Linked DNA regions of Homo sapiens. The protein of the gene in region 2 interacts with the protein of the main gene of each other region in a pairwise test. Each region holds a gene or a part of one and is shown on either strand. Other genes may lie near its edges.

The links.
Region 1: the proteins of SERP2 (region 2) and CYB561 interact in binary tests that used the Homo sapiens proteins (3 or more experiments, as listed by UniProt).
Region 3: the proteins of SERP2 (region 2) and TM4SF19 interact in binary tests that used the Homo sapiens proteins (3 or more experiments, as listed by UniProt).

What each region holds. Positions count from the first base shown.
Region 1 is NC_000017.11:63,436,307-63,439,955, forward strand, and holds part of CYB561 (transmembrane ascorbate-dependent reductase CYB561), read right to left. Parts: intron 1,255-3,649; coding exon of another isoform or gene 1,242-1,254; coding exon 1,040-1,241; intron 1-1,039. UniProt on the Homo sapiens protein: Transmembrane reductase that uses ascorbate as an electron donor in the cytoplasm and transfers electrons across membranes to reduce monodehydro-L-ascorbate radical in the lumen of secretory vesicles.
Region 2 is NC_000013.11:44,390,817-44,394,465, reverse strand, and holds part of SERP2 (stress-associated endoplasmic reticulum protein 2), read right to left. Parts: intron 3,041-3,649; exon of another isoform or gene 279-3,040; intron 1-278. UniProt on the Homo sapiens protein: Interacts with target proteins during their translocation into the lumen of the endoplasmic reticulum. Protects unfolded target proteins against degradation during ER stress. May facilitate glycosylation of target proteins after termination of ER stress.
Region 3 is NC_000003.12:196,328,329-196,331,977, forward strand, and holds part of TM4SF19 (transmembrane 4 L6 family member 19), read right to left. Parts: intron 1-3,649. UniProt on the Homo sapiens protein: Negatively regulates vacuolar (H+)-ATPase (V-ATPase) activity by interacting with members of V-ATPase V0 complex and hence inhibiting V1-V0 complex assembly. Required for multinucleation during osteoclast differentiation.

The DNA.
Region 1 (3,649 bases), on a different chromosome or scaffold from region 2:
CTGGGGACCCTGGGCAGCTCCTGGCCTTCTCTGAGGGCACCTAGGGCTGTGTGCACCTTAACACCCCTCCCCCACCCTCCAACCTCCCCCAGCTGTGCACAAAGAGGGCAGGGCCGGAGGCTGCACCACAGTCCCCACCACCAGGACAGGCAGTGAAGGCAGCGCCTCTGCCCTCGTCCCCACCTAAAGGAGCTGCCCGGCCCAGCAGACGCCCCCCTCCACCCACCTTCTTGTCAGGTGTCCTGCAAATTCCAGGCTGTGTTTGAGGTCCACTGTTGGTCACACTGAGGCAACAAGCAGCCTCTGAGTTCACCTGTTAGCCACGTGGCTCCTCACACAGGCCCCCACCTAAGCCTGGGCAGATGGTCCTACTCCTAGCAAGCAGGCGCCTGGCTCCCAAGCAGAACCTTGTGATCCCAGCCTGATCTCCCGCGTCCAGAAGAGGTGGGCAAGGCCAGGTCACGTGAGGAATGCCTCTTAGCTTTCTGCTGCTCAGGAATGGCTGTCACCAGGACCACCTCTAGGAAGAGCGGGTCAACCGGATGCAGATCCCGCTTCCTGGATCCCTGGCCTGGAGGCAGGTGGAGGCCAAGCACTGCCTTGCTCCTGCCCCAGGGGGAGGCGCTCTAGCTCTGCCAAGTCCAAGACCAACAACACACATGCGCGCGCACGCACGCACGCATACAAACTCTCACATATGATTACTTTTTTTCCCTCAATTCAAACCACCCCTGCAGCAGGGCCTGGCTCGGAGCCTCATTCCTTTCCCTCTGCTGCAAGAAGTGCCCGCCTTGGATGCTGTGTGTGGAAACGAGGTGAAAATGCTGGACCAGGCTGGAGAGGAGCTGCCACTCACCAACCTCAGAGCCTGGGTTTGGATTCCATCTCCCCAGGCTCTGAACCAGCTTCTGTCTCTGTCTTTTCTAGAATCTTAGATTTGTCCAACCAGAAGAGACCGCAGGGGTGACAAGACCCCTGCAAACTGCCTCTCAGGGACCCCCACAAGCCCGGGAAAAGAGGAGCGGCCCATGGGACTCACCATTTCCCTGCAGGAAGATCAGGCCTATGACCATGCAGAGGGGGTGCGCGTTGAACTGCAGGTCGCTCTCCCAGGCAATGCCGCCTCGGTACAGCCCGAGCCACGCGCCGGTCATGGCCACCAAGGTCAGGCCCAGCAGCTGGGAGAAGGCCACGTAGTAAGGCAGTGCTGTGGGGGTGGCTGCCGCGGCCCCGCCCTCCATGCTGAGGCAAACGCTGCAAGAAAGAGCAGAGCTCAGAGGAGCAGCGCACAGCACCCCGAGATGCGCACAGCCCCCGCGGATGCACACAGCCCCCCAAGATGCGCACAGGCCCCCCGAGATGTACACACCCCTCAAGATGCGCACAGCCGCCCCCGGAGATAAGCACGGTCCCCCCAGATATGCACAGCCCCCCCCGAAATGCGCACAGCCGCCCCTGCTAGATGCGCGCAACACCCCCCCCGGGTTGCGCACAGCCCCCTCCAGATGCGCACAGCCACCCCGCTAGATGGGCACAGCCCCCCCGAGATGCACACAGCACCCCCAGATGCGAGCAGCCCCCCTGAGATGCGCATGTCCCCCCCACGGATGCGCACAGCCCCTAGAGACTGCGCCTGAGATGCGGCGCGGCTCCTCCCACGGCGGCCCCGCCACCCTCCCCCGAGGCTCCCGCTGGAAGCAGCGCTCGCTCTCCTACCCGCAAGCCCCTTCCCACCCATCGTCCTGAGGCAGAGGTCTCAAGTCTCGGGAGTGGCTGGGGGGAGGGGCCCAGCCTCCCCACGGGGACAGGCGTGACCTGGGACACGACGCCAGGAGTTCCATATGCGGTGAGGGTGCAAGGAAAGATACCCCAAATTCTAGTGAGCTCAAGGGCCCAGTGCCCGGCTTTGTTTTCTGTTTCATGAGGCCCTGGCCTTCCCTGGGTGGGCTTTACAGGTGAGTTACACAGGCAAGCGCGCTCCTTGACGGGAAGGAAGGGGCTGGTCACACCTTTTCTCCAGACGCGTCATGAAGTACATCTCGGGAGAAATGGGAAGTCTCCCTCCCCCATCCTGGTTTTTAACTCCATGCTGGCGATGAGGAGGCCTCCCCACCCCACACCCAGGAGAGCCAGCCCCGCTCCCCCCACGCCCCCGCCCGCCCCCCACCCCGCTCCCCGCCCGGCCGCGCCTGCAGAGTAGAAGTGCCCCGACCATGCTGCACACAGGGACCTGTCAGCACACAGGGACAGGGCACTTCCCCTCCACACCAGGGGCGGGGCGGACCCGCACTCTAGAGGGGCCCTCAGGGAGGTTTCCAAAACTGAAGGCCCCCAGAAACGAGGCCTGCGAAGGGGCCGGGTAGAGCTCAGCACGGCTGTCCCAGGTGCTCGGCCCCACGTGGCCCTCCAGGAGGAAAGGAGAGCGGGTGGTTCCTAGCGAAGCAGCAATGAGAAGGCCCCGCTAAGAGCCCAAGGGAGTGCCCAGTGCCTGCACAGCTTCATGCCGGCCGGAGAGCACCCAGCAGCTGGGGATGGGAGGAGAGGCGGCAGGAGGAGAACAAGCGGGGCTCTCCCCTCACCCGGCAGCGGCCTGTGCGCCACGGAAAAGTGCTGCCATGGCCCACAGTTGCCACTGCAACTGCCACCACCATGGCCACCACAAGCAGACCCCAGAGCACTGCTGCTGCCCCCCATCCCGCCCCGGTTCCCCACTGGCCCCTTGCCACGGTCCAGCCTCTCCTGGCAGCAACTGTATCAGAACTAGGGGGACAGTGGCCAGCACAGGGGCACTGACCCCCTTCACACCCGGCACACGCTCTGCCCTGCAGTGCCCAGGAGCTGGTTTTCAGTCCCTCCCAGTGATGGGCTCCTTCTCTGCTCCCCAGTTCTCTCTGCCACATCGGACAACTGTTGGCAACTCCACCATTAAAGGGGGGGTGTGTGTGTGGGCCGGGTGCGATGGCTCACACCTATAATCCCAGCACCTGGGGAGGCCAAGGCGAGTGGATCACCTGAGGCCAGGAGTTCAAGACCAGCCACAACATGGTGAAACCCTATCTCTACTAAAAATATAAAAATTAGCCGGGCATGGTGGCTCACACCTGTAATCCCAGCTACTTGGGAGGCTGAGGCACTAGAATCCCTTGAGCTCAGGAGGCAGAGTTTGCAGTGGGCCAAGATCGCACCACTGCATTCCAGCCTGGGTGACAGAATGAGACTCTGTCTCAAAAAAAATTTTTTTTAATTAAAAAAAAAAGGGTGTGTGTGTGTGCTAATAATCCACACGCACTGCAGTAGAATATGGATCAGCAAAAAAGGTAAAATGACAGGCCATCAGAATTTGATCTATATCCTCACACACCTTCTTCCTAAAACACATATGCATCCTTTTATAGAAGCAGGATCATTTATTCCATTTTCTAACCTGCTTTTTAACTGAGGGCGTAGCACACATGGATGTTTGTGTCAATGGATACGCGCCCACATCATCATTTTCGTAACCTCACACTCTTGCATTGCACGGCCATTTTTTAGCCAACTAGTTCCCATTGTTCAGCATTTAGCTAGCTTTCGATTTCAGTTTTCCACCAAATAAACAACAGGATGTGGTCATCTGCAAACTTCTCTGCAGGGAATCCTGAAACAAGGG
Region 2 (3,649 bases):
TTTTGAAGGAACTGTTACAAATCTCTTTAAAGAATCTAAGACAGTCCAGGTGCGGTGGCTCATGCCTGTAATCTCAGCACTTTGGGAGGCCAAGGTGGGCAGATCATGAGGTCAAGAGATTGAGACCATCCTGGCCAACATGGTGAAATCCCGTCTCCACTAAAAATACAAAAATTAGCTGGGTGTGGTAGTGCCAGCTACTTGGGAGGCTGAGGCAGGAGAATCGCTTGAACCTGGGAGGTGGAGGTTGCAGTGAGCCGAGATTGCGCCACTGCACTCCAGCCTGGGTGACAGAGCAAGACTCCGTCTCAAAAAAAATAAATAAATAAAAATAATAGAAAGAATCTAAGATAAAGTTTGCACGTCTCAGAACAGCGACACTGATATTAAAACAACTTACCTAGTTCTTTGAGTTTGCTTTAAAAACTGAGGATCATTCCTGATCATAATTGAATCCATGAATTAACATATAAGAGTCCAGCGATCCTTAACATGTTCACAGATGAACCTTCTTGGAGACACTACTTTGAATAAAGTCTATTTTTTTAAGTTCACCATTTACCTCCACAAGATAACAGAGAGATGACTGTGTTTATTATTTCTTTTTCAGTTGTATCATTGTCTTTAAGAAAACTTACACATTCTAATTATATTAACTGTAATTCTGTGTACCTGCCAATACTGACCTGCAGAGTAACCTCAGCCTTCCAAATGCTGACTTTCTGAGGCGGCAAATGGGAAGGGAGCCAGCAGTGAGTTCAAAAGAGGGAAAGGAAGCGGGGAGTCTAGACCCTGACAAGTTAATAACTTAACAGTGGGTGAACAAAGCTGAGAAAACAGCAGAACAGGCTGCAGGAGAGGAACTGTGGGCAGGCGAGACAGCGGGGAGGAGAGATGCCAAGAAAGGGAGGGACAGCAGGCGTTCCAGGGCAGGCGATCAGGGCGTGGGCAGGTCCCAGAGGTTCAGAAAAGTCCAGGGGAGAGCAGGAGCTACCAGACCCACGAAGCCTCTGCATCCTCCTACCTGTGTCAAGGATCCTGGCCCTTGGTAACCTTAGATGATACCATTTCTCTTTTTTCAGCACCCCTTTCAACAAAGTCTTTAGGCTTTAACATGCTAGGAGCACTCCCACTGAAAAATCAAATACACCAGAGCTATCTGCCTGACTCCACATCTCCATCCACAGGGCCCTCTCTTCCTCTTCACAACCATTTCTAAAGAGCTGTCTATGCTCACTTTCTGCACTCTCTTACCTGCTATTCTCATGTCAGTCCACCTCATTTTATCTTCTGCTCTCTTCCCTCCATTGAATATCTTTTGCTAAAGTCACAAATGACTTTTGAGTCGCTTAGTGTAACAGGCATTCTTCCACCTTCTTTTGCCTTACCCCCTGCTCACCCCCGCTGGGCACTTCCTGCTTGAAACTCTCTTCCCTTGGCCTCTGTGAAACCATGGTCTTCTAGGTTCTAATTTTCCTCCTTCTCTTGGATCTTTCCTCTAAACTTGTTTTAGAGGAAACAATCCACTTGACCATTAAACATAAGCGCTGACATTCTGCAATGAACGTCACTGGCTTTCTTCTCCTTACGTTCTTTCTTCTTAGGCAATGCCTCCCAGCCCACAGTTTGAATTGCCACCTAGCTGTTGATGATGCACAAATGTGTATCTCCAGCCCTGACTTCTCTGAGCTCCAGCACACCTTCCACTATCTAGTTGATATCTACAGCTGGGTGGCTCAGAGGTACCTCGGACTCAACAGGACCTTCTCATGATCTCGTCCCACTGCTAAAACTGGCATCATTATCTTCCATCTTGGATGTAGACTCAAAACACCACAGTCCTTCCTGACACCTCCAATTGATAACCAAGACCTGTGGATTTTACCTGGGAATCTTGTGATTATGCACCCTTCTTTCCATTCCTCAGAAGCCACCCTAGTCCAAGTTACCATCATCCTCCCCAAGACCCCAGTGAGGCCCTCCCAGTGCTCGACTCTTGCTCTTCTTCCATCCTTTCTCCATACTGTAGCTAGAATTATCCTTTCAATAAAAGCAAATAATATATTGTCACTCCCGTGTTTACTGCACATCAAAAGCTTCCCGTTGCCCAATCCCTGATGAGGCCTTCATGACCTGCACATCATGGTCCCTGTCCAGACCTGTCAGACTCACCTTGTATCACTCTTCTCCTTGCTTGGGGTACTCCCTCATGTTTTCAAAAGCTCCCTGCTCTCCTGCTCTCACCACAGGGCTTTTTTTTTTTTTTTTTGAGACAGAGTCTCACTCTGTCACCAGCCTAGAGAGCAGTGGCACGATCTCGGCTTACTGCAACCTCTGTCTTCCGGGTTCAAGCGATTCTCCAGCCTTAGCCTCCTGAGTAGCTGGGACTACAGGAGCGCACCACCATGCCCAGCTAATTTTTTTTGTATTTTTAATAGAGACGGGGTTTCACTATGTTGGCCAGGATGGTGTCAATCTCTTGATCTCACGATCCACCCGCCTCGGCCTCCCAAAGTGCTGGGATTTACAGGAGTGAGACCACAGGGCTTTTACACATGCCATTCTTTCTGTCTGAAATACTTCTACCCCACCCTATTCCCTAGTTTCCTTCATCAACCAAAATTTAATGTCTTCAGAGAAGCCTTCTTTGATCACCTGGAGCAGAGGTTCTCAGACTTGAGCATGCATCACAGTCTCTTGGGGACAGGTTAAAACACAAATGCTGGACACCTTCCCCCCAAACCCTGGAGTTAAGGGATGGAGAATCTGTGTTTCTAACAAGTTCACAGGAGATGTTGAGATGCCGGTCCAGGGACCACACTTTGAGAACCACTTACCTGAGAGTACACCAGTCCTTTGCATTGTATGATTTCATAGCCCCATGTGCCTCTCCTTTACATTGTTTCATGGCTGAAATTGTACAGTTTCATGGCTGAATTGAAAGTGTTTTGGTGTGATTACTTGATTAACTCATCTTTCTTTGCCATTAGACTATAAGCTCCAGGATAACAGCGACCAGGTATGGCACAAAGTAGGTCCTCTGTAAATATTATTGAATTACTGAAAAGTGAACGATTGCAAAGAGCACAGAGGAAATTACATTTTAAAAACCTCAAATGACTACTTTGCAAACCCAAAGAGTCAGCATCAAATGGCTGCCTTTAGATCCAAATGTCTCTAAAGCTCAGTCTTCGAAGGGGAAGTACAAGACTATAAACTCCTAAAGGCCTGATAATGGGCCATCCCAACCGACTCTCACCCTGGGGACTGACCCTCCCCAGCTAAGAGGGAGTGCCAGAAGGACACAGGGATGACATAACAAGTGGGTCCCATAGGAAAGTGTCAGAAAGCTGGAACCCTGCCAGGTAACAGGAGGCTTCCTAAAGCCACTTTTATTGACAATAAATTGATGATAAAAGAGATCAAGGGAGTTGCTGAGAAGAGAGATTAAGAGAGGCCGGAAGAAGAATATCCTTTAGGAGAAGAAGACAACCTAGAAATCATACAGTTTTGCTTATTTTTCATTAAAGAAAATGAAAATGATGAAAGAGCTGGTAGAAAGCAAAGTACAGGCCCTCTGAGAAACAAGCTGAAATGTTAGGAGACGAGACATTGCAAAGTGGATCACTAAGTTCTCTAAAAGAATCAG
Region 3 (3,649 bases), on a different chromosome or scaffold from region 2:
TTCACAGATAATGTGATCACATTATGTAGAAAATCCTAAAGTTTATTAGAATTAACAGGTGAGTTTAGCAACGTCATAGAATAAAAGATTAATATACAAAAATTATATTGTATTTCTATATACAAGCAATGACAAATTGAGGATTGAAATTAAAATATATCATTTACAATAGCATAAAAATATAATACATATGGATGAATTTAACAAAATATTTGCAAGACCTATATAGTAAGAATTGCAAAGCATTGCTGAGAAAATTAATGGAGACCTAAATAAATGGAGACATATACCATGTTCCTGAACCAGAAGACTCAAAATAGTTAACATGTTCTCCCTAAATTGATGCAAAGATTTAAAGCAATATCAGTCAAAATCCTAGGAGAGTTTTGTTATAGAAATTGACAAACTGAATCTAAATTTATATGGAAATGCAAAGCAATTGTGAAGATTAGCCAAAGCAATTCTGAAAAACAAACAAAGCTGGAGAACTTACGCCATGTGATTTCAAGACTTACAAAGCTACAGTAATTGAAGACACTGAAGCCACGCGTAAGGAAACACATATGGACTACTGGAACAGGCTGGAGCTCAGAAACAGACCCGGTCCAGGAAAAATGATTTTTTTTTTTTCTTGAGACGGAGTCTCGCTCTGTTGCTCAGGCTGGAGTGCAGTGGCGCGATCTCAGCTCACTGCAACCTCTGCCTCCCAGGTTCAAGCGATTCTCCTGCCTCAGCCTCCCAAGTAGCTGGGATTACAGGTGCCCGCCACCATGCCCGGTAATTTTTTGTATTTTTAGTAGAGACGGGGTTTCACCGTGTTAGCCAGGACGGTCTTGATCTCCTGACCTCGTGATCCGCCTGTCTCGGGCTCCCAAAGTGCTGGGATTACAGGCATGAGCCACCGCGCCCGGCCAATAAATGATTTTTTAAGAAGATGACAATTCAGCGGGAAAAAGTCTCTTCCACAAATGGTGCCGGAACAATGCACATGCAAAACAAAACTGCCTTCACTATTACTTCACAACATATTCAAAAATTCACTTGAAATGGAGCATGGGTCTAAAAGCTTTATAAAATTTCTAGAATAAAACAAAGGAGAAAAACACTGGGACCTTGGGTTAGATAAAGGTTTCTTACTAAAATGCAAAAAGTACAATCCACAAAACATGATTAATCAGACTGCTTAAAAATTTAAATGTCAGCTGGGTGCTTGCCTATAATCCCAGCTACTCGGAGGTTGAGGCAGGAAAATCGCTTGAACCCAGGAGGCAGAGGCTGCAGTGAGCTGAGATCGCGCCACTGCACTTCAGCCTGGGCGACAAGAGCAAGCGACTCCATCTAAAAAAAAAAAATCATGCTAAAAGAAATAAGCCAGACACTAAAGGACAAATATTGTATGATTCCACTTATATGAAATATTCAAAATAACAACTTTATAGAGAAAGAAAGTAGACTGGAGGTTATCAGGGACTGTGGGGAGGGAGGAGAGAATGGGGAGTTATTGTTTAATGGTTACAGAGGTTTTCAGGTTTTGTTTTGTGTTGTTTTGTTTTTTTTTTTTGAGACAGAGTCTTGCTCTGTCAGCCAGGCTGGAGTGCAGTGGCGCAATCTCAGCTCACTGCAACCTCTGCCTCCTGGGCTCAAGCAATTCTCCTGCCTCAGCCTCCCAAGTAGCTGGGACTACAGGCATGTGCCACCACGCCTGGCTAATTTTTGTATTTTTAGTAGAGACAGGGTTTCACTATGTTGGCCAGGCTGGTCTTGAACTCCTGACCTCAGGTGATCTGCCCGCCTCGGCCTCCCACCGCGCGCGGTGGTTTTGGGGTTTTTTTAGAGATGCAGTCTCACTATGTTACCCCAGCTGGTCTTCAACTCCTGGACTCAAATGATCCTCCAGCCCGTGCCTCCAGAGTAGCTATGACCAGATCTGGGCCACTGCCCACGGTTTAAGGGTTACAGACTTTCTGTTTGGGGTGAAGAAAAGTTTTGGAAATAGATAATGGTAATGGTTGCACATCATTGCAAATGTAATTAATGTCACTGAATTATACACTTTAAAATGGTTAAAATGACAAATCTGATGTTACTTTACCACAATAAAAAATCAATTAAAAAATTTGTGATTACTCAAATCCTTATCAGTAATCAATAGGTGAATCAAGACAAATTGTGTTATCCATACAAATGAGTTCTATTAGGTAATAAAATGCGTAAATTTCTGCTACATATAACATGGATGAATCTCAAAAGCATTGTGTTAAGTGGAAGAAGCCAGAAACAAAAGACTACTCACATGTTTCTATATATACGAAATTCTAGAAAAGGCAAAACTTTTAACGGAGAGCAGATGAGCGGTTGCCATGGGCTGAGAATGGGAAAGAGGATTAGTATGGGGCATGGGAAGCTTTCTGAAGGGGTGGAAGCATTCTGTGTCTAGATTCTGGTGGTGAATACATAACTGTACATATTGACAAAACTCATTAAACTTTGCACTTAAAATAGGTGAATTTTATTGAATTTTAACTATATATCAATAAAGCTAATTACAATTAAAATGTCATATCTAGATAAATTATAAAATGCCTCTTCCACTCCTTATGTTCCTCTCTTTTATATTTTCATTGATATGTGAACTTCTTGTTTTTTAGAAAAATATGAATTAAGGCCGGGCACGGTGACTTACACCTGTAATCCCAGCACTTTGGGAGGCCAAGGCAGGTGGATCGCCTGATGTCAGGAGTTTGAGATAAGCCTGGTCAACATGGTGAAACCGTGTCTCTATTAAAAAATACAAAAAAATTGCTGGACGTGGTGGCAGGCACCTGTAATCCCAGCTACTCGGGTGGCTGAGGCAGCAGAATCGCTTGAGCCCAGGAGGCAGAAGTTGCAGTGAGCAGAGATCGTGCCATTGCACTCCAGCCCAGGAAACAAGAGTGAAGCTCTATCTAAAAAAAAAATATATATATATACATATATATATGAATTAAAATAGGACTAGTAATATTTGGGCAGACTCATGTCAATGTGGATCTGAAAAAAGTCAGCGTCATGACATCCCCAGGAAGTGGCCTGTTCCCACTGTGCAGTTCAGTTACACGTCTGTCTCCCCTTAAGGCTCGCTATTTATTTATTTATTTAATTTATTTATTTATTTTTTATTGAAAAAAATTTATTTTTAGCCGGGTGCAGTGGCTCACGCCTGTAATCCCAGCACTTTGGGAGGCCAAAGCCGGCAGATCACCTGAGGTCAGGAGTTCAAGACCAGCCTGGCCATCATGACGAAACCCCATCTCTACTAAAAATACAAAACTAGCCGGGCGTGGTGGCGCATGCCTGTAATCCCAGCTACTCGGAAGGCTGAGGCAGGAGAATCACTTGAACCCGGGAGGTGGAGGTTGCAGTGAGCCGAGATTACGCCACTGCACTCCAGCCTGGACAACAAGAGTGAAACTCCGTCTCAGAAGAAAAAAAAATGTAATAGAGGTGAGGTCTCCTTATGTGGCCCAGGCTGGTCTCAAACTCCTTGGCTCAAGGGCCCTCCCACTTCAGACACCTAAAGTGCTAGGATGACAGGCGTGAGCCACTGCACTTGGCCACTTGAGGCTCTTGACACGCCTATAACACACTGCTTTGCACCTAATCAGAAAAT